4 linked regions of the Homo sapiens genome follow. The protein of the gene in region 2 binds, or shares a complex with, the protein of the main gene of each other region. Each region holds a gene or a part of one and is shown on either strand. Other genes may lie near its edges.

The links. Proteins that work in one complex are often made in the same cells at the same time.
Region 1: TIMM21 (region 2) and TIMM23 share a complex: the UniProt entries of both Homo sapiens proteins name them as parts of the TIM23 complex.
Region 3: TIMM21 (region 2) and TIMM17A share a complex: the UniProt entries of both Homo sapiens proteins name them as parts of the TIM23 complex.
Region 4: TIMM21 (region 2) and CMC1 share a complex: the UniProt entries of both Homo sapiens proteins name them as parts of the MITRAC (mitochondrial translation regulation assembly intermediate of cytochrome c oxidase complex) complex.

What each region holds. Positions count from the first base shown.
Region 1 is NC_000010.11:45,977,830-45,982,940, forward strand, and holds part of TIMM23 (mitochondrial import inner membrane translocase subunit Tim23), read left to right. Parts: intron 1-4,693; coding exon 4,694-4,787; intron 4,788-5,016; coding exon 5,017-5,101; intron 5,102-5,111. UniProt on the Homo sapiens protein: Essential component of the TIM23 complex, a complex that mediates the translocation of transit peptide-containing proteins across the mitochondrial inner membrane.
Region 2 is NC_000018.10:74,150,602-74,155,712, reverse strand, and holds part of TIMM21 (mitochondrial import inner membrane translocase subunit Tim21 precursor), read right to left. Parts: intron 569-5,111; coding exon 506-568; coding exon of another isoform or gene 489-505; intron 408-488; coding exon 310-407; intron 1-309. UniProt on the Homo sapiens protein: Participates in the translocation of transit peptide-containing proteins across the mitochondrial inner membrane.
Region 3 is NC_000001.11:201,964,344-201,968,785, reverse strand, and holds part of TIMM17A (mitochondrial import inner membrane translocase subunit Tim17-A), read right to left. Parts: intron 3,354-4,442; coding exon 3,243-3,353; intron 1-3,242. UniProt on the Homo sapiens protein: Essential component of the TIM23 complex, a complex that mediates the translocation of transit peptide-containing proteins across the mitochondrial inner membrane.
Region 4 is NC_000003.12:28,313,460-28,318,570, reverse strand, and holds part of CMC1 (COX assembly mitochondrial protein homolog), read right to left. Parts: intron 2,239-5,111; coding exon 2,148-2,238; intron 1,819-2,147; exon of another isoform or gene 1,712-1,818; intron 1-1,711. UniProt on the Homo sapiens protein: Component of the MITRAC (mitochondrial translation regulation assembly intermediate of cytochrome c oxidase complex) complex, that regulates cytochrome c oxidase assembly.

The DNA of each region.
Region 1 (5,111 bases), on a different chromosome or scaffold from region 2:
GAGACCAGCCTGGCCAACATGGTGAAACCCCATCTCTACTAAAAAACAAAAATTAGCCAGGCGTGGTGCTGGGCGCCTGTAATCCCAGCTACTTGGGAGGCTGAGGCAGGAGAATCACTTGAACCTGGGAGGCAGAGGTTGCGGTGAGCCAAGATCGCGCCACCCGCACTTCAGCCTGGGCAACAGAGTAAGACTCGGTCTCAAAAAAAAAATAAAAAAATAAATAAAGAATGGAAAAAGTCCTGGCGCAGTGGCTCGTGCCTATACTCCCAACACTTTTAAGAGGCTGAGGCGGGAGGATCACTTGAGCCCAGGAGTTTGAGACCTGCCTGGCCAACATAAGAAGATCCCATCTCTCCAAAAAAATACAAAAATTAGCCGGGTGTGGTGGTGTGCACCTGTAGTCCCAGCTACTAGGGAGGCTGAGGTGGGAGGATCACTTGAGTCCAGCAGGTCAAGTCTCAGCATAATCAAACCACTTAACTCCAGCCTGGGTGACAGAGAGAGACTTTGTCTCAAAAGGAAAAAAATTGGGAAAAGACAATCCACAGACTGAGAGAAAATATTTGCATATTATGTATCTGATAAGGAATTTATATCTAGAATATTTAATTTTTTTAACTCTTGAAACATTAATAAAAAATAATTACAAAATGGGCAAAGGATTTGAGTAGACATTTCTCTATGAAGATATACAGATGTCTAATAATGACATGAAAGCTGGTCAGTAACATTAATTAGAGAAATAAAACCACAATGAGATACCTCTTTACACCCACGGGGATCACTATAATCAAAAAGAAAATAATGAGTATTGTTGAGGATGTAGAGAAATTGGACCTCTGTACATTGCTGGTGGGAATGTAAAATGATACAGCTGCTTTTAGAAACAGTCTGGCAGTTTCTCAAAGTGTTAAAAATAGAGTTACCTTATGACTGGCAATTTCACTTGCGTATACTCCATACTCAAGAGAATTGAAAACCTCTGTGCACATAAGTTGTAAATGAATGTTGCTAGTAGCATTATTCATAATAACCAAAAAATGGAAACAAACCAAATGTTTATCCACTGATGAATGGATAAAAAAGTGTGGCATATCCATACAATGGAATATTATTTGGTAATAAAAAAAGAATTATTAAATTGTGCTACAATATAAATGAACCTTTAAAACTTCCTAAATGAAAGAAACCAGTCACAAGAGACCACATATTGTGTGGTTCCATTTATATGGAATGTCCAGAATAGGCAAATATATGGACAAGAAAGTAGATTAGTAGCTGCCAAGGGTTAGGAGTAAATGGGCAGTGACTGCTAATGGGTATGTGATTTTTTTGGGGGGTGATGAAGATGCTTTAAAATTTATTGTAGTCTTGGTTGCACGACTCTGAATATACTAAAAACCACTGAATTGTACGCTCTAAGTAAGTGGATTGTGTGATACATGAGATACAGATCAGTAACTCCATTTTCTCTCTCTCTTTTTTTTCTAAGAGACAAAGTCTCCCAGACTGGAGTTGCAGTAGCAGCATCATAGCTCACTGTAACCTCAAACTCCTAGGCTCAAGCGGTCCTTCTGCCTCATCCTCCCAGATAGCTAGGGCTGCAGATGAACACCACCATGCCTGGCTAATTCTTTTTTTTTTTACATTCTTTGTAGAGATGTGATCTGACTTGGTTGCCCAGGCTGGTCTCTTAACTCCTGGCCTCAAGTGGTCCTTCTGCCTTGGCCTCCCAAAGTGCTGGAATTACAGGCATGAGCCACCATGCCTGGCCTTTTTTTTTTTTTTTTTTTTTTTTTTTAAGCATTATGGTTGGAACCTTTTATTTCACAGTTGAATCACTAACGGCATCTGACAGCTGCTGCATTTCTTGTTTGCGTTAAGTGTTCAAATTGAAGCAAGTTGATGGTTCGGACCTTGCCAATTTAAAGCTTCATTATTTTTGAAATGTTTTTCAAATGTTATATTTTAACATTGGGTGTTCATTGATTTTTTTACTTTAAAAGTACTCCTTTGTCAGTTTACTCAAAATTTCAAAACTAGCTGCATGTATTTTGCTTTAATGTTGAATCTACACTTAGAGGTTGTACTCTAGATCTAGTTAAAATTCAATATCATTGTGGCCCTGCATTGCTAGGTGGGGCTTATTAAGGTTAGACATAAAATATTTCATATCCCCCCAAAAACTTGTGAATTCATTCTTCATCATGAACATTTAATCTTCCATTGGAATTCTAGAGGGACTTCAGACTTTAAAAAGTGTTTTATAAACCTCATCTGTTATTGGAAATAATTCTGGAGACCTTAAATTTAAAGATAATAGAAATTACATTTTGTAAAACTTTTATTTATACTTTTGAAGGTTAGAGACATCTTAAAGAAAATAGTACCTGTCAACTCACCATGTCGTGACTTTGGCAACAACTTTTTTTTTTTCTTGTTTAATAGTAGACACAGGGTCTCACTGTGTTGTCCAGGCTGGTCTGGAACTCCTGGGTTCAAGCAGTCCTCCCACCTTGGCCTCCCAAAGTGCTGGGATTACAAGCGTGAGCTACTGTGCCTAGCCAACTTTTATCTGATACAGTATTGTAGTTTCTCTTACTAATGCTTTTGTATTGTCACTACTCTTGTATCCTTATTGATTTTTTTTTTTAAATTGTGTCAAGTAATAAATTTTTTTGTTAGCCCAGGTGAACATCTGGTACAAAAATAAGGAAAATTTAAATATTTTTAACATCCATAGTGTTAAACACGCAAAATTATAAATTAAAAAAGTTTTTTCTTTTCCCCCAGCAAGTACATTGATACCCATTCTTGGATTTATCTTCCATGTCAGCAAGCTCTGGTACTTGGGATTTTAGTAATACTAGTGTCCTGGAGTGTCAGCAGAACAGGTTTAACAAGAGGTTTTTAGTAAATCTTCTATACATTCAATATATTAACATACTTTGATAACAACCTTGTTTGTGTGTGAATTGATGGACGTTTGCTTGCAACCCTTGTTATATTTTTCAGTTGATACTAGCAGGAGAATGAGTTGGTGCTAACGTGCACTTTTGCTTGCTTGATAATGTTCATCACAGCCTTTTTTTTTTTTTTAAGTTTTCTTTTCTTTTTTTTTTTTGGAGATGGAGTCTCGCTCTGTCACCCAGGCTGGAGTGCAGTGGCGTGATCTCAGCTCACTGCAACCTCCACCCCCGGGTTCAAGCAATTCTCCTGCCTCAGCCTCCCAAGTAGCTGGGACTACAGGCGCACACTGCCACGCCCAGCTAATTTTTTGTATTTTAGTAGAGACGGGGTTTCACCATGTTGCCCAGGGTGGCCTCGAACTCCTGAGCTCTGGCAGTCCACCCGACTCGGCTTCCCAAAGCGCTGAGATTACAGGCGGGAGGCACCGTGCCTGGCCAAGTTTTCTATTCTTAATTAGTAATCTGTTTCTGTATTGAAGGATAATTTTTTTTTTCTTCTCAGCAACCATGGCCTGAGACTGAAGAATAATTATTTACCTTACCACATTGAATCTAGCATTTCTAAAAACTCAAACAAAAAGCAGTTTAATACTAAGTCATTATTTAAAAGTTGAAGTACCCAAAATTTATAAAACTCTATACAATTATATTATGACATGGGATCTATTCAGATTTTATTATTGCCCAACAGACCATTCTTATGTGATGAGAGTGGATGTGTTTGTTTACTTTTGCAATTTTTGGTGAGGATGTGTGCACATGCCAGAAAGAAAAAACCAAGGCAGAACCACAGTTTTCTGATTAGGAATACAATTTTCTGAATCAACGTTCAGTATTTGCCACAAGGATGTAGGAGAATGTTAATTGTCAGTGGTCTTTACTATGTTAAATGTAACACACTATGTGTCTTTTTGCCAAGGGTGTGACCTAGCCATTAGAGGCTTATTTTAACCATCTTTGGTTGGAAAGCTTGCCAAAAATGAGTGTGATTTTATTTTTTTAATCCAACATGGTGATAAAATTTTGTTTGTTTTTTTGAGTGTGTTTTTCATAAAGGTGCATTGACTCTTCAAAATTGGTAACCATATTTTGCTCTTAAGAGTGTCATTTCTCAGTCTTAGTATTTTGGATGACCTTCCAGGGGTTCATGCCACATTTTGTGTATGCAATTACTAGAAATAGGGTCTATAGCTTTCTGAGAGTATCAAAGGAATATATACTCCTTAAACAGATAAGAATTATTAAAGGGGGTCATTTGCCCTTGCATAATTGATCCAAACTGTTGTACTTTATTAGTTTTTGCTCATGTTTGTGAACATTTGGCTTTATACATAGAAAAATGCACAATAAATAGCTGCTACAGAATGAAAGTTATTTGTTTCTTCCAGACTGATTGTCTGTTCTGTTCTTCTCATAGCTTTCAGTGTTCCTTTCTCTAGAGCTGTCCTTTCTAAACACTTTTGCACAAATCTATCAGATTTACGTTTTGAAGGAAACAAAGTCTTTAATGAGACTCCCTTCTAAGAACTATGTTTCGTATTTCATTTCACTTTGATTTAGGTGTTACTGCTGCAGAAAGTTTTATTTTTGTTTAAGTATAGGTTTGAGTTAATTTAAGGTTTATTTTCTGTGAAAAACTACTTTGAAATGTTAAAAAGGCAACTTTACAAGATTTGTGTCTTGAGGGACACTCAGCTTGGTTTTCATTATTATCCTTTTAGGATACAGATGAGTTTATTTTACCTACCGGAGCTAATAAAACCCGGGGCAGATTTGAGCTGGCCTTCTTTACGATTGGAGGATGTTGCATGACAGGTGAGTGTTACATACTTTTTTCTCAAGAGTGCTCAGTTCAAGTAGTTGAGGGTGCGTAAAATCAAAAGCAATTAGAATGTTGGTTTCAGGGTTTTTTTTTTAATATTTACATTTGTCTTTTTCTATTAAATAAAAATGAAAAAGAATCAGAAGTGTAGTTATGCAGATTTGAGTTTGTTTTTTTAATATAAAGCTGTCTTTATCTGGGTGAATTGTTATGATTTACCAGGGGCTGCGTTTGGTGCAATGAATGGTCTTCGGCTAGGATTGAAGGAAACCCAGAACATGGCCTGGTCCAAACCAAGAAATGTACAGTAAGTCTCT
Region 2 (5,111 bases):
TGCATCAGGCTTTAAAAAGACTAGAAACTTACCATGAGTTCAATATTTTGGTGTATTCTAAAAATTTAGTATCTATGAACAACCAGCAAAATGACTGTCTTGTACAATTAGCATGAAAACATCTGTACACTGACTTTTGGGTTCTCTTAAAGAGCAAAGACCTAATAATGTAATGATGACTCGACCATTATGTATTATTATGTGAATTTCACTAGCGTGAGAACTGGTTCTTGAATTCTGCCCACTTCCTCCTCCCAGACATTTTCTCCCCCTCATCAGAGTTCATGTAACTCAATCTTGAGAACTAACCTCAGGATGTGATCTGCATTTTTCTAAGGCTCTCCCATATATCTTGCTAGGACTGGATGAAGAAAAAAGTTCTTTGAAAATCGTGTAAAACAAGCCACCTGAAATCACAGAAAACAAAGATGAAGCGAAGCAAGGGCAACATAAAAAGTCCAGTTTAAAAAATATTCAAGGGCTTATACTTGCTGTTTTTTGCAACCTGTAATGCTGATTCCAAAAAGCACCACTATTAAATAGGTAAAATCTCTTCCGGCTTCTTTCACTGTGAAGAGAAAACACCAATGGGTTACGGGTGCCGGCTGGGAGCAGGCAAGCTTGTCTGCTGCTTTTGCACTTCTTGCGAGAGAAAAGCAGCCTCCAGATCAAAGCAAGGGGTCTGTGTGTGTTCAGGGGCAGCTGTTTTGAAAACTCCCTGTGTGTCAGCGCCTCAGCAGAATTCTCAGAGCAGGGCTTGGGAATCTATGTTTTAATTTAGGATGAAGAAATCCTTTTAACAAGTGATCCAGTCCACAACTGCTGTAGGTTAGGCAACACTCCCAGATTAGGAAGAGTGCTGGCTTTTGTCAACCAAATGGGTAAGGGACTGAATGGACCAAAATGGGTGTCAACTCTTAACAGTTAGTAACTAGCTCGAATGCCAGTCCCACCCCACACTGACTGGTGCATAAAAACAGAACTGTGTTCAGAGTAGGAATATGGTTGGCCAGAAAGATTTATGAATTAAACTTAGAAAATGAAGAAAATGCACAGACCAGACATTTGTTTTCCCACACTAATAAAATATGTGCATATGGGTTAAACAGACACTCTGAGAGCTAGAGAAACTCAATCAAGACAGTGTCAGGGGGCCAGGCGCGGTGGCTCATGCCTGTAATCCCAGCACTTTGGGAGGCCGAGGCAGGCGGATCACGAGGTCAGGAGATCGAGACCATCCTGGCTAACACGGTGAAACGCCGTCTCTACAAAAAATACAAAAAATTACCCGGGCGCAGTGGCGGGCGCCTGTAGTCCCAGCTACTCGAGAGGCTGAGGCAGGAGAATGGCGTGAACCCGGGAGGCGGAGCTTGCAGTGAGCCAAGATAGCGCCACTGCACTACGGCCTGGGCGAAAGAGCGAGACTCCGTCCAAAAAAAAAAAGACAGTGTCAGGGGACAGAATATATACATATGTATAGCTATAAATAAATGTATTTGTATTATACAGAAATACATATACAAGTACGCTTATTTGTCCCTATTACCCCAATCACCCTAGATTCCCGATTGTCCCTCCCAACATTTCATTCCTGCCTTGCTTAGCGTATCAGGTGAGTCTTTCTATTTTTTCACTTACCAACAGCTACTGTATATCTACCATGTGTATCTTCATATATATGCAAAGAGCTATAACATTACAGTTACACTACCTTAACATTACAATTACGACTATGCTTTTCACTGATGCTGAGAAAGTGAGTCACCTCCTGGCATTATGTTTATAGACTAATTTATTCACCACATTAGCCATTCAGACTTCTGAAATATAAATCTTTAAAAAATTTTTAAGAAAAAAACTTTTGGAAGAAAATTTTAATAGATGTTGCTGTTATTTTCTCTTCTGTATAAAAAGCTTCTATTATGTTTATAAACAACATTGTTTAAAAGAAGTATTTAGCTAATACAACGCTTGTTTAAAAGTAGTCTTTAGCGTATCACAATCCTTCAAGTTTTCAGCAAGGTTCCCAACTTAGAAGACATTATTCAAATAATAAAAAGACCTCATCTGCCAAAATCTGTGTAATTCATGGGACTGACTCAAACAATTGTCACAAATCCAATTTCCCTTCCAAGGTTCAGGAGTTGGGGCCTACAATGACGACATCTCATTCCACTCTCAGTGTCACAAAATACATTTCAATAAATATTACCTGCCAGTTATGTATCAACTCCCAGGTTGAGAATACAATAACAACTAACTAGTTCTAGTAAGTATCCTTATTTGTCCTTGTTACCCAAACCGGGTCATTGGCCCCAACACCCTGGACTTCTGACTGTCCCTTCCAACAATTCATTCCTACCTTGCTTAGGGTATCTGACAGGTCTTTTCCATTTATTTGATAAACAACAGCTCCTGTATATCTGTTATATATAAAGCCCTGTGCTAAATATTCTCCATATTCTACACACTTGAAAAATTTCTGTTTGTTACTTTATAGCTGTCTCCAATGGAAGCTGCTCACTGTCTAACTTTCTGAACCCTATCAGACCTAATACTTGTATGCAAAAAACCCTCATGCCATTTATTTGCTTCCACAATTCTCTACCCCTCCTATAGTGGGTGCTGTGGTATGGGGCTCCCAGCTGCAGGGAGCACTGGTAGCGGACAGTTGTCAGCTGAGCTCCTCTCTGGGCATTCCATCATAAGAGAGCTTCCTCACTTAGGTCACGGCACTTCCCTGGACCAGCCCATATTCAATGCCTGGTTGATGCAGAAGCATAAGACTCAGCCCCCATATTAGGTAGGACAGTGACTGGCCAGCTCAGCTCCAGAAGTCCCCAGAGCAGCAGCTGAGGCCCCAACTGCAAATGCACTTCGGCCTCTCCCTCTGCCCAGTCCTGCTTCCCTCATCCCTCAAGACGTATTCTGAGAGCACTCCCTGATAAACCTTACGCAAATCCCACTTCCCTGGGAAGCCAACCTACAACGGGTGCTACCAGGAGTGGTAAGCAGCTCTCAATTTGGATTTTGGAGCTGGCTTGCCGGCCACTGGCTGGCAATGAGGACCCTGTCCCTGGTGGTAGGGGGGTACTGACAGCACCTGTCATAGAGCTGTAGTGCAGCTGATGCAGCTCTCACCAATGGGGACCTGGGATGGAATGCTGGCGGAAGGGAATGTACTGGCTGATGTGTTATTCTGGGAGTTTAGGAGGAATCAGCAATTTTAAGGACTTATATCAGACGGCTGTGGCTGGGGCCATGGAGAGGGATGGTGAGATGAAGTGTGTAACTAATCACCAGTGAAGGTGAGTGCCAAGGGCAGGAGCCTCCTCCCCGGCAGAACAAGACTCAAATTGCACCCAGAGGATAGAAAATGCGTGGGTGAGGTCTGGGGCGGAAGGGATTCAGGGAGTTTGGCATTTCAAGCCCATGAGACCTCCCACACCAAGGTCAGGGTCCTGATTTGGGAGGAAAGGCAACCTAAAGCTGGGTAGGGGGCCCTTGAGGTCAATGTTGTAAAAAATCTTGAATCCCAATTCTCCTGACCCCTCTAGCCCTGAAGCAGCAGCTCAGTGTCTGGTAAAGGTTGGCACTTCCTCCACCTTGGAAACTGGGCGAGGGGTGGGTGGGGGTTTCTGCCTAGCAAGATACGTGCTGCTCTCAGGAGGGCTCTCCACCTCCCCTCCTGGCCAAGTTACAACACGACTGGGCATGAGAAGGGTGAGAAGAACAATACTCGGAAGGAGCTGGAGGTCCCCCCGGGGGGGGGGGGAACATAGACACCACTGCTTCTTAAGGGTGGTGTGTCAAGGGCACAGAACACAAAACCAGCTGAGAGTTGATCAGCATGGGGCACGCTCCTGTGATGAATTTAGCAACCAGGCAAGCACCCTGGGAACTGATATGCAGCTGGCTAGGTCTGCTCCTGGAAACTTCGAGACAGTGATGGTCCACATTAAGTAAAAGTGACAGAACAGCCATGGCAAACTGGACGAAAGGCTCAACAGCCTCCAAGAATGGGGATGCTACCATAGATATAAGATATAAAGCCCGAAAACCCACCAGCTGACTATGTTCTTAGGAGGGACAGGAGGACACTGTGTACCAAAGCCACAAGGAAGCCACAGTTACATCTTTATAGAGCAGGATGCCCTGACAGAAATGGAGATGAAAGAATTATGAAGCAGAGACCAGGCTGGGGTGTTAAACAGAAGCCAAGGTGGGTGCAACCATCATAACTAATGGCAAGGCTGGAGTGGCAGTCGGGAGTGTCTGACCTACAGAAAGCAACAGAGTTGATGACTAGAACACAGTGTTTCCAAAGGGAAGACACAAGGGCAGCGGACAAGGCTACTTCTGAATTACACAGTCATGAGAAATTAACTACAGATGATTCCTGAGGCTGAAGGCAGCTGCTCTAATGCAAAGTCCTGAACATTGCCCCAGTTTCTGGACCTGAACCAGTTTTCAGACCTGGAACGCATTTACTGAAGGAAAGCGTATGTAACTGACTCCCCCCGTCCTTCACCAAAAGGACCTACAGTTATCAACTTGGACATAGTCTGTGCTGACAGTGATACCCAAGGACCCAAAGAGTCATGATGACCCCCTGACCGCCCTCCATCACCGGATGTAAGAAGCTCACAGGTGGGTCCAGGGACTTACCTGGCAATAATTTCTGTGATTTCCAAATGTATAAATCAAGGGGATGTACTGAGTAACTGGCAACAATAACTCCCACTTTAGTTCCTTTGGAAGTGGGTTAAGAGCCATCGCAGTGGGAAAAGTCAAATGGAAGCCCCTGAAGCTGCCCTTTCGGTGACCAAGATAGGAAATTAAAAATGATATCACATCTATGGGGAATGGCAGAGTATTCTTAGAGACCTTAGATACAGGCATGGCGATCCCCATCACGGTCCCTTGTAATTTACCAGTCTTCCTTTACAAAACACAAATAGGTGCTGGAGAATGACAGTGGTTAACTGCAAACTCAACCAAGTGGCAGCCGGGGTACACATGTAATACCACAAATGGTAACTTTACAGGGGAATGCATTAACACAATCTCATGGTATTGGCCATTGCTTTGAAGAACGCCTTCTATTCAGA
Region 3 (4,442 bases), on a different chromosome or scaffold from region 2:
TTCTCTGAAGTTTTCAAAGTGTTTCACTCATATATTTTTACTTCACTATAAATGCAACTATCTGTTAATTACAGAAAACTTGAGAAGATACTGGGTAAAAAAGATAAGCTGGGGCCGGGTGCGGTGGCTCTCGCCTGTAATCTCAGCACTTTGGGAGGTTGAGGCGGGCAGATCACCTGAGGTCAGGACAACATGGCGAAACCCCGTCTCTACTGAAAATATGAAAATTAGCTGGGCATGGTGGAGGGTGTCTGTAATCCCAACTACTCAGGAGCTGAGGCAGGAGAATCACTTGAACCTGGGAGGTGGAGGTTGCAGTGAGAAGAGATCGCGCCATTGCACTCCAGCCTGCGAGACAGAGCAAGTCTGTCTAAAAAAAAAAAAACAAACAAAAACAAAAAAACCCCAAAAAAAGATAAGCCGATGAAAACCACTGTTGCCATTTACATACAGTTCTGTCTAACCTTTTTTCACTGTTTTAAAAACTTTTTTGCTGGGCGCGATGGCTCACATTCCCAGCACTTTGGGAGGTCAAGGCGGGCGGATCACGAGGTCAGGAGTTCGAGACCAGCCTGACCAATATGGTGAAACTGCATCTCTACTAAAAAATACAAAAAAAAAATGAGCCAGGTGTGATGTTGCGCACCTGTAGTCCCAGCTACTCAGGAGGCTGAGACAGAAGAATCGCTTGCACCCCGGAGGCGGAGGGTGCAGTAAGCTGAGATTGCACCACTGCAATCCAGCCTGGGCGACAGACCGAGACTCTGTCTCAAAAACAAAACAAGACAAACTTTTTCATGTAAGTTCACTGGAAAAATATGATTAAGTTTTCAAAGATTTCCCCCCTACACAGCTTTTCAGAAACACATCTCTTGTCTAAAAATAAATACACCTCTTTTAGGCTGCTTCTATATAAATGCTGAGTTTTAATTACTAAAAAGGAGATTCCAGCTGGGCACGGTGGCTCACCCCTGTAATCCCAGCACTTTGGGAGGCCGAGGCAGGGAGGATCGCTTGAGCCCAGGAGTTTAGGATCAGCCTGGGCAGAGACCTCATCTCTACAAAAAATATAAAAATTAGCCGGGCATAGCGGTGCACACCTATAGTCCCAGCTGCTCAAGAGGCTGAGGTGGGAGGATCGCCTGAGCCCAGGAGGTCAAGGCTGCAGTGAGCCGAGATTGCACCACTGCACTCCAGCCGGGGTCACAGAGATTCTGTTTCAAAAAAAATTAAAATAAATAAATAAATAAATAAAATAAATAAATAAAAAGGAGATTCCCTCTGAGGAAAAAAGCCTAAAACAAAGTACTCAAGGCTAATTTCTATGAGACAATGTAACTATTTAAGTTAACTATATCCATTTCTGAATTTCTGTGAATATGGAACTGTTTTGATGTTTTATGTAAAGTCTTTCACACTGAAGCAGTCAAAACAAAATTGGAAAGTGACCATCACTACAGAGTGTTAACTCAGAAGTAAGGAATGAAAAACAAACAGAAGGTGAGAGGGTCTGCAGGGTCATCTAGATTACTCACTGCCATTTAACGAGCAGTGCACTTGAAAATTGTGCCAAAAAGATACTGAATCTCTTGCTAGGTGCCTCAGGGAAATCAAAGCAAATTGGGATGTATGATCTATTCCTAACTTTATGCTGAATCTTTTCCAAGCTCCAAAAATAATTTTCAACATGTCTCACTATTCTACGTATTTTTTTCCTTCCCAAATGCCAGGTCAAATTTTCACTACTACTATCCTCACTATATATATATACACACACACACACACACACACACAACATATATAATATACAACATATATAATATATAACATATATAATACATAACATATATACAACATATAACATACATATTATATAACATATATAATATATAACATATATAGCATATATATAACATATATATGTTATATATATATATATTTTTTGAGATGGAGTCTTGCTCTGTTGCCCAGGCTGGAGTGCAATGGTGTGATCTCAGCTCACTGCAATCTCTGCCTCCCAGGTTCAAGTGATTCTTGTACCTCAGCCTCCCAAGGAGCTGCGATTACAGGCGTGTGCCACCATGCCCTGCTAATTTGTATTTTTAGTAGAGACGGGGTTTCACCACGTTGGCCAGGCTGCTCTCAAAACTCCTGACCTCAAGTGATCCACCTGCCTCAGTCTCCCAAAATGCTGGGATTACAGGTGTGAGCCACCGTGCCCGGCCACCTCACAATATCTTTTTGCATCCTTCCATTGTCAAGGGATATTTTCATTTAGACACTGAAATTTTTTTTTAAGAGATGGGGTCTTGCTCTGTTGCCCAGGCTGGCCTTGAACTCCTGGGGTCAAGTGAGTGGCCTCCTGAGTAGCTGGAACTACAGGAATGCACCATCTTGATAGAAGTTTTCTGTTTGTTTCATTTTGAGACAGAGTCTCGCTCCATCGACCAGCCTAGAGTGCAGTGGTGTGATCTCGGCTCACTGCAACCTCCACCTCCCAGGTTCAACTGATTCTCGTGCCTCCTGAGTAGCTAGGACTATAGGTGTGAGCCATTATGCCTGGCTAATCAGCTGAGAGCACATTCTATAACCATGTAATGATCATTCAGCCCACAATTTAATTATTACCCTATGCATCATATAGGAGGAACAACAGGCAACAAATTAAACCAATATAAAAATTAGCCGGGCTAACACATTTTCTAAGATACTTCTACTGTGAACCCTAAAGTGACCTTCCCAAATATGAGTCACTTTCCACTATTCTCTTCTTCAAAACAAGCAACACTATCTAAAATAAGCTAATTTATCTGTTAATGTGTTAGTCTGTCTCCCCCTACCAGAATGTAAGTCCTTGAGGGCAGGAACTGTCCTGTTCACTACCTAAAACAGTGTCTGGCATGTAGATGTACAATACTAAATTGTCAATTGACCATCATGATTGTTATACATCTGCAGAACCATTCTTCAAGTCCCTTTAAAATGATCAGACATTTCTTGCAAGACATGAGCACTGATAAACCCTAAGTACTATAAAGAAAGATCAACAGCAAATTTATACAAAAAATTTTTGTTTTTGTGGCTAAATATAACATGTTCATTTTTTACCTATTATCACAGTCCTCATGAACCACAGCATATTAATACATACCACACATTTTATCACACAAAGTATGTTCTTTCTTAACATCAGAAAACCATTCCAAAATGTTTGAGCTATAGTTTTAAGCAAAAAGACTCACCATTGGGAAACTGTGCAGAGGCAAATCTTGTCAACAAGATACCAGCTCCTTCAATTAAAGCTAGGAGAATGCCACCCATTGCGGCTGACCCAACCATGGCCACTGGTCCATCTGAAGACATTAATAACAAAGAGATTATTTTTTACAGAAATCTAGTTTACTGTAAGAGATAGTAAAGAAGAGAACTGTCCATATGGTGACATGCTCCCCCAACTCCCAAACTCTTTCTTATTGCCTAAGACCCAGAGTCAGTAAACTACAGCCACCCACAGTCCACCCACTGCCTATTTTTGTAAATAAAGTTTTACTGAAAGGCCATAAATCCCAGCACTTTGGGAGGCTGAGGCAGGCAGATCATGAGGTCAGGAGTTCGAGACCAGCCTGGCCAACATGGGGAAACCCCGTCTCTACTAAAAATACAAAAATTAGCTTGACGTGGTGGCGGGCACCTGTAGTCCCAGCTTCTCAGGAGGCTGAGGCAGGAGAATTGCTTGAACCCAGGAAGCAGAGGTTGCAGTGAGCCGAGATTGTGCCACTGCACTCCAGCCTGGGTGACAGAGTAAGACTCCGTCTCAAGAAAATAAATAAATAAATAGGGCCGGGCGCAGTGGCTCACGCCCGTAATCCCAACACTTTGGGAGGCCGAGGTGGGTGGATTACGAGGTCAGGAGATCGAGACCATCCTGGCTAACATGGTAAAACCCCGTCTCCACTAAAAATACAAAAAATTAGCCAGGCGTGGTGGCACACACCTGTAGTCCCAGCTACTCGGGAGGCTGAGGCAGGAGAATCGCTTGAACCCGGGAGGCAGAGCTTGCAGTGAGCCGAGATTGCGCCACTGCATTCCAGCTCGGGCGACAGAGTGAGACTCAGTCTCAAAAAAAAAAAAAAAAAAAAAAAAAAAAAAAGAAATAAAATAAAATAAATAAATAAATAAAGTTTTACTGAAACACAGCCATACTGTTTCGTTTATGTATTATCCATGGCTGCTTTCATGCTATGACAGCAGATTTAGGTAGCTATGACAAAGACCACACAGCCCACAAAGCCTAAAATATTCACTATCTGGCCTTTTACAGAAATAGTTTGCAAATCCCTTGGTCTAAACCACTAAGCTCAAAGGAATTCTCTGTCCTGAGGATCCAGAAGATGGTTCTAAGTTCCTTATTCATAACAACTCTATATGGCAGGTGTAATTAT
Region 4 (5,111 bases), on a different chromosome or scaffold from region 2:
TTGAACAAAGAAACAAATGTTACTTTCTATAGTAAGTAATTGAATTCATGGGTGCAAACTAAACTTCCTCAGATTTAAGAATGAGAAGAGAACTTGGGGAATCACCAACATTAAGGAGTAGATTAAAAACATGGAGAAGTACAAAGAGATTTTGGGAAAATGGGAAAAAATATTATCAGGGAAGACAGAGGAGACTTTTAAGAAGGGATTGCCAGAGACAGGTCCAGTAAAAGAAAAGGAACAATTTGTTGGATTTGTCTACCATCAGCCCATCAGAGTCTTTAAAAAGAGCAGGTTCAGTGATGTGAGGACAGAAATCAGATCATAGTGTATTAAGGAAAAAAATGAAAGTAAGAGGTAGAAATAAAGGAGCAAAAACAATGTTTCAAAATGAGAGAGGATAGCAGTTACGTTCATTTCATGGAAATGTCAATAGTAATTAACAAAGCAGAACACCTTCTTATTTAAAGATGAATAAATACTATTTCTTAGTGTATCTGGGGACTCAAAGTCAAGTACAATTTTCCCTAATAATTTTCCATTTACTTTCAGTTAATGTCACATCCACTGCTTATCTCTTCTAAACAAGCAGAAACAGCCATCCTTCCTAGCCCCTCTCCTCCCCTCAGATGGACTAGAATCTGTTATTTTCTTCTTGTATTTCTAGGGGGTGAGAGAGGGAAGGATATTCAAATGATTAATATTCAGATAAATAATAACAAATACTAATCAAAAAAGAGCTAACATTTTCTGAATACCTATCATGGTAAATGTGTTTACATGCAGTACCTCACAATCACTCCATAAGATATAATTATTCCTTCTTACAATGAGGAGCCTGCCTAAGGTAACACGACTAGCTAAGCTCTCACTGATACAGAAGCTGAACCCAGGTTGCCCTCTCTGCAGTCTATACTCCTGTCTACTCTGCTCTAGAGCTCCCCCAACTGGAGTGAAGGATAATATGTCAAACTAGCAATAACAATTATGATGACTGAATCTGAGATATAAAAATTATTTAATCAATGTATAAGACAGAATTTAATAATTCAGTCATACAAAAGTTTAAGAGATTCGTTTACTCAGTAAACATTTCTTGGAAGCACTTGAGAATAGAACTGAAAGAATATTAAGTCACAGAATGAACTTTTACTCCTATATGGTAAAGCACTGAGTACAATACCTGGACCATAAATAAGGGCTGCTTTGATATTATTAACTTAAGAAAAAAAATCAATATTGATTATGTTTCATCATTTACAAATATAGCAAATATAGAGATGAGTTTACATAATCTCTAAAGTCTTTTCCAACTCCACCATTCTAAAAAAAGGTCTATAAGTTTATGTGTACATATTTTATTTAAAAAAAAATGTAGGGTTCGGGTGTTCATTACATTTTTATTTAATCCTCTAAGATACATACCATACTGACATATACGCTGCACAGGCTACAGAAATTAAAGGAAACAAAGGCTTACCAAAACTAAGATCTCTCAACATTCAATTAACAATACTTACTAAAGTATTCTGCAATCTTATCTGTCAATAATGTGGGCAATAGAACATGGGTGAATAAATCAGCATGTGAATTCAAAGAACTTCACACATTTTTACTTAAATTTAAGGAACTACAACAAAATATTAGTGAACACGATATTATAAAATTATTTTAAAAGTAAATTTGGTTAACTTCAAAAATCTAAATTTACCTTTTTATCATCCATACGATTTATCTCAACTTTCTAGGAGTTAAATTATATTAATCCAACAAATCACAAGGCTGGAGGAAGTCTCAGAGATATTTTCATTCAGTTATCTTTACAACAGAATAAACAAAAATCAGTCTGTACTATATTTTACAGATCAAACTGTTCATGAAAAAAGATTTATTAAATAGTGAAAAATCATATATTTTTGTCTGCTGACTTCATCTTTTTAATCAGATACAATGCTGAGAAAATTTGAAAAGACTCTTTCATAAATATGTTGCATTTTTAAGACTGTACTGGAACTTTAGACTCAGCCAACAATATGATAAATTTGGTATGGAGAGGTACAGAATATATTACATGTAATGAGTTAAGTAACATACTCTTATCTACCACAAATACACATACAAGCACAAACGCTGAGACAACTACTTACTAAGCAGTTAGACATTCTTTCAATGCAGAATTTTCTTTCCGGCATTTTACTACCATAAGAACTCCAGAGTTCTTGCAACATTTGGTAAAATCTGAAATAAATTTGGAAGGAAAAAATTACTTGTAATTATATCTATATAAATACCCACACACACAATTTTCTTCTTTTTAGAAAAAAAAAAAGAAAGCCTGTCACCCAGGCTGGAGTGCAGTGGCATGATTATAGCTCACTGCAGCCTTGAACATCTATTATGTACATTGTGCTTGGCACATGGTACCGTGCTCAACAAAAGACATGTACACCAGTAAAAGGCAGAATAAGATGAGTGATATTCACTTTGTATAAATAAATGTGATTTGAGAAGAGGGAGAGAGGACTTCTGAGATGAAGGGCAAGGAGACTTCATAGAGACAGGATGTAGAGATAGGATTTCTAGTAGAGAAACAGTACAATCATGGGCTGCTTAACAATGAGGATACATTCTGAGAAATGCATCATTTGGCAATTTCATCGTGGTCCAAAGATCAGAGTGTACTTACACAAACCTAGATGGTACAGCTGAGTAGATATCTAGGCTATTTTGTATAGCCTAGGCTAAAACCTGTACCATATGTTACTGTACTGAATACTGCAGGCAATTATAACAGAAAGGTAAGTACTTGTATATCTAAACATTTCTAAACATAGAAAAGGTACAGTAAAAATACACCATTATCATCTTATGGAACCACCATCATATATGTAGTCTGTCATTGACCTAAACACTGTCATGCAGTGCACGACTGTATATTCTAGGAGAAATACAAAGAGTTGACTCTTCCTTTGAAAGGGAATTGTTTCCAGACATTGGTATCTGTTGTCTAGTCTCTGCATGTCTTCTTAGTACCTGGCAACAAAAGCCGGTGGATTCCCACCTGATGGCAGCAAGGCATCCCTTTGCTTTTACACAACCCTGCCATGGTTTCTTAACTTCTAATAACAGGACCCCCATTTCATTCCCAAGTAAGTTCTAGGTGCTGTAGATACTTCAAATGGCTTTCTGTCAAATTTCCACTCTGCTAGTTTGCTCTTTAAATTGTACTGGCACCTTGGGTATTCTGCCTTTTCAGGACCACAAACCCAGAAAAGCCTGGTACCTATGCTACCCACAGGTGGGCCACTTACTACTCTGTCTTGTGTTTGCTTTGGGTCAGACTCAGTCCTGTCTTATCCCTTACACAGGACAATATGCTTTGCTCCTCATCTCTTGCAGCTACTCTCATGAACTACTCTGGTCCCTCCTTCTGACCACTGGCTGCCCTAGTTCCAGACTCTGCCACCCCTCATCTACTGTAAGTAAGCAACTATTTCCAAGTGAGATCTTAAACATCGTCCTTACAAAGAAGCTGTAGGCAAAAAAATGAAAATAAAAATAAATTGTGTATTGTGTTTTCTCAATATCTTTTGTAACTTTGAAAATACAAAATAATCAAGATTCCTCTCTTTTCTTGAGCTATGTGTTATCCTTCCAGGTACTTGGGATTATAAATTATTTATAATTGTCTTAGACAGATAATCTTAGGAGTGTCCATGAAAATACATAATTATGTAACAAAAATATTTTTAAACCACAAGCAACCAAAAATGAGATTTATTAAATGCATAAAAAATTCATTAGGGGGGCCTTGCTGGGACAAGAGCCCTATAGCATAGATACCTGTATCCACTCACAACATCATAGTGATACTTCCAAGAAAATTGGTGGAATAGGAAGAAGGAACAAGGGATGCAAGAAATGACTTTAATTCAAATAATTTAATGTGTGTGATCACATGAAGTGAGTGATACATAGTATTCCCCTTCAAGGACACACAGGATTAGTTCCCTTTGGCTTCTGCTTCACTAGTCTCAGCAGTCCCAACATTTGCTCTCTCATTCCCAACCCAGCCTGTTAGACTCTAAACGTAATCAAGTATCTTCTTTATTCCAACTGCAAATGTTCTTGTTCCTCTTGACGCAGATGAGCTGGCCACACAGGTCAAATCAAACCAAGGGAAATTCTTTGTGCCCTTTGACTAAGGACTCTCTAACACTCAAAAGGCAAAGCAGACTTATAGCCAGCTCATTTTCAGTGGAGACGCTGAAGGGTAGCCACATGGCTATCTAAAAGTCAACTAACTTTCACTCTGGAATGCCTATCTATTCCTATACGTTAATTTTTCTATTTATAGCATGATGTTAAGATCTACCTTTACATAAGCAAAGACTACGATCCCAAATAAAAAGACATGGGCAATCCTCAAACAATATGTATATAAAGTTAATCCGGAATTAGCTAAAGCTAGCTAAAGGCTTCTTTAAGAGAACTGCCATGTTCAATAGTGGTAATGAACCATGGGCTGGATTCCCCTGCACCACCTTACCTTTACTGTCACCTTACTATACCTATACCAGACCAGTTCACCCAAATAATATTTGGTAGAAAGGTAATTAGATCATGAATTTTGTCTCATGAAAACACACTAGTTGACCAAACCTCAGTCCTTTTCCGGAAAACACAGACACAACGGCTGTTAGCAAATGCTTACTTTCTGATTTAACAAACCCAATATTTTAACTTACTTAGATAAATAGGATGCTTAGGCATTGCATTAAGACTTGTTTTGTCTAATATTAGTAAAAATGTCCTTGGTAGGGAACTGGTACAAACTAGCATTTATGTGTTCTGATCACAATAAAGGCATAGTCTATATACTTTCACACTTGTCCAAATATCTTCAGGAGTAAATATGACTGACCTGAAGCCTTAAGCTGTCTGCAAGGTTTTTGTCACTTGTTTAGCAACAAGATTTTAATGAGGACCTTTCTTTCATTCTACATTAGCATATATTCATATAATAGTGATGTTGCTAATACTGCCAACTGATTTCCAAAATGGAATTCTGAAACAAATCCAATTTAAATCAGTTCCATCTTTTAATTTAC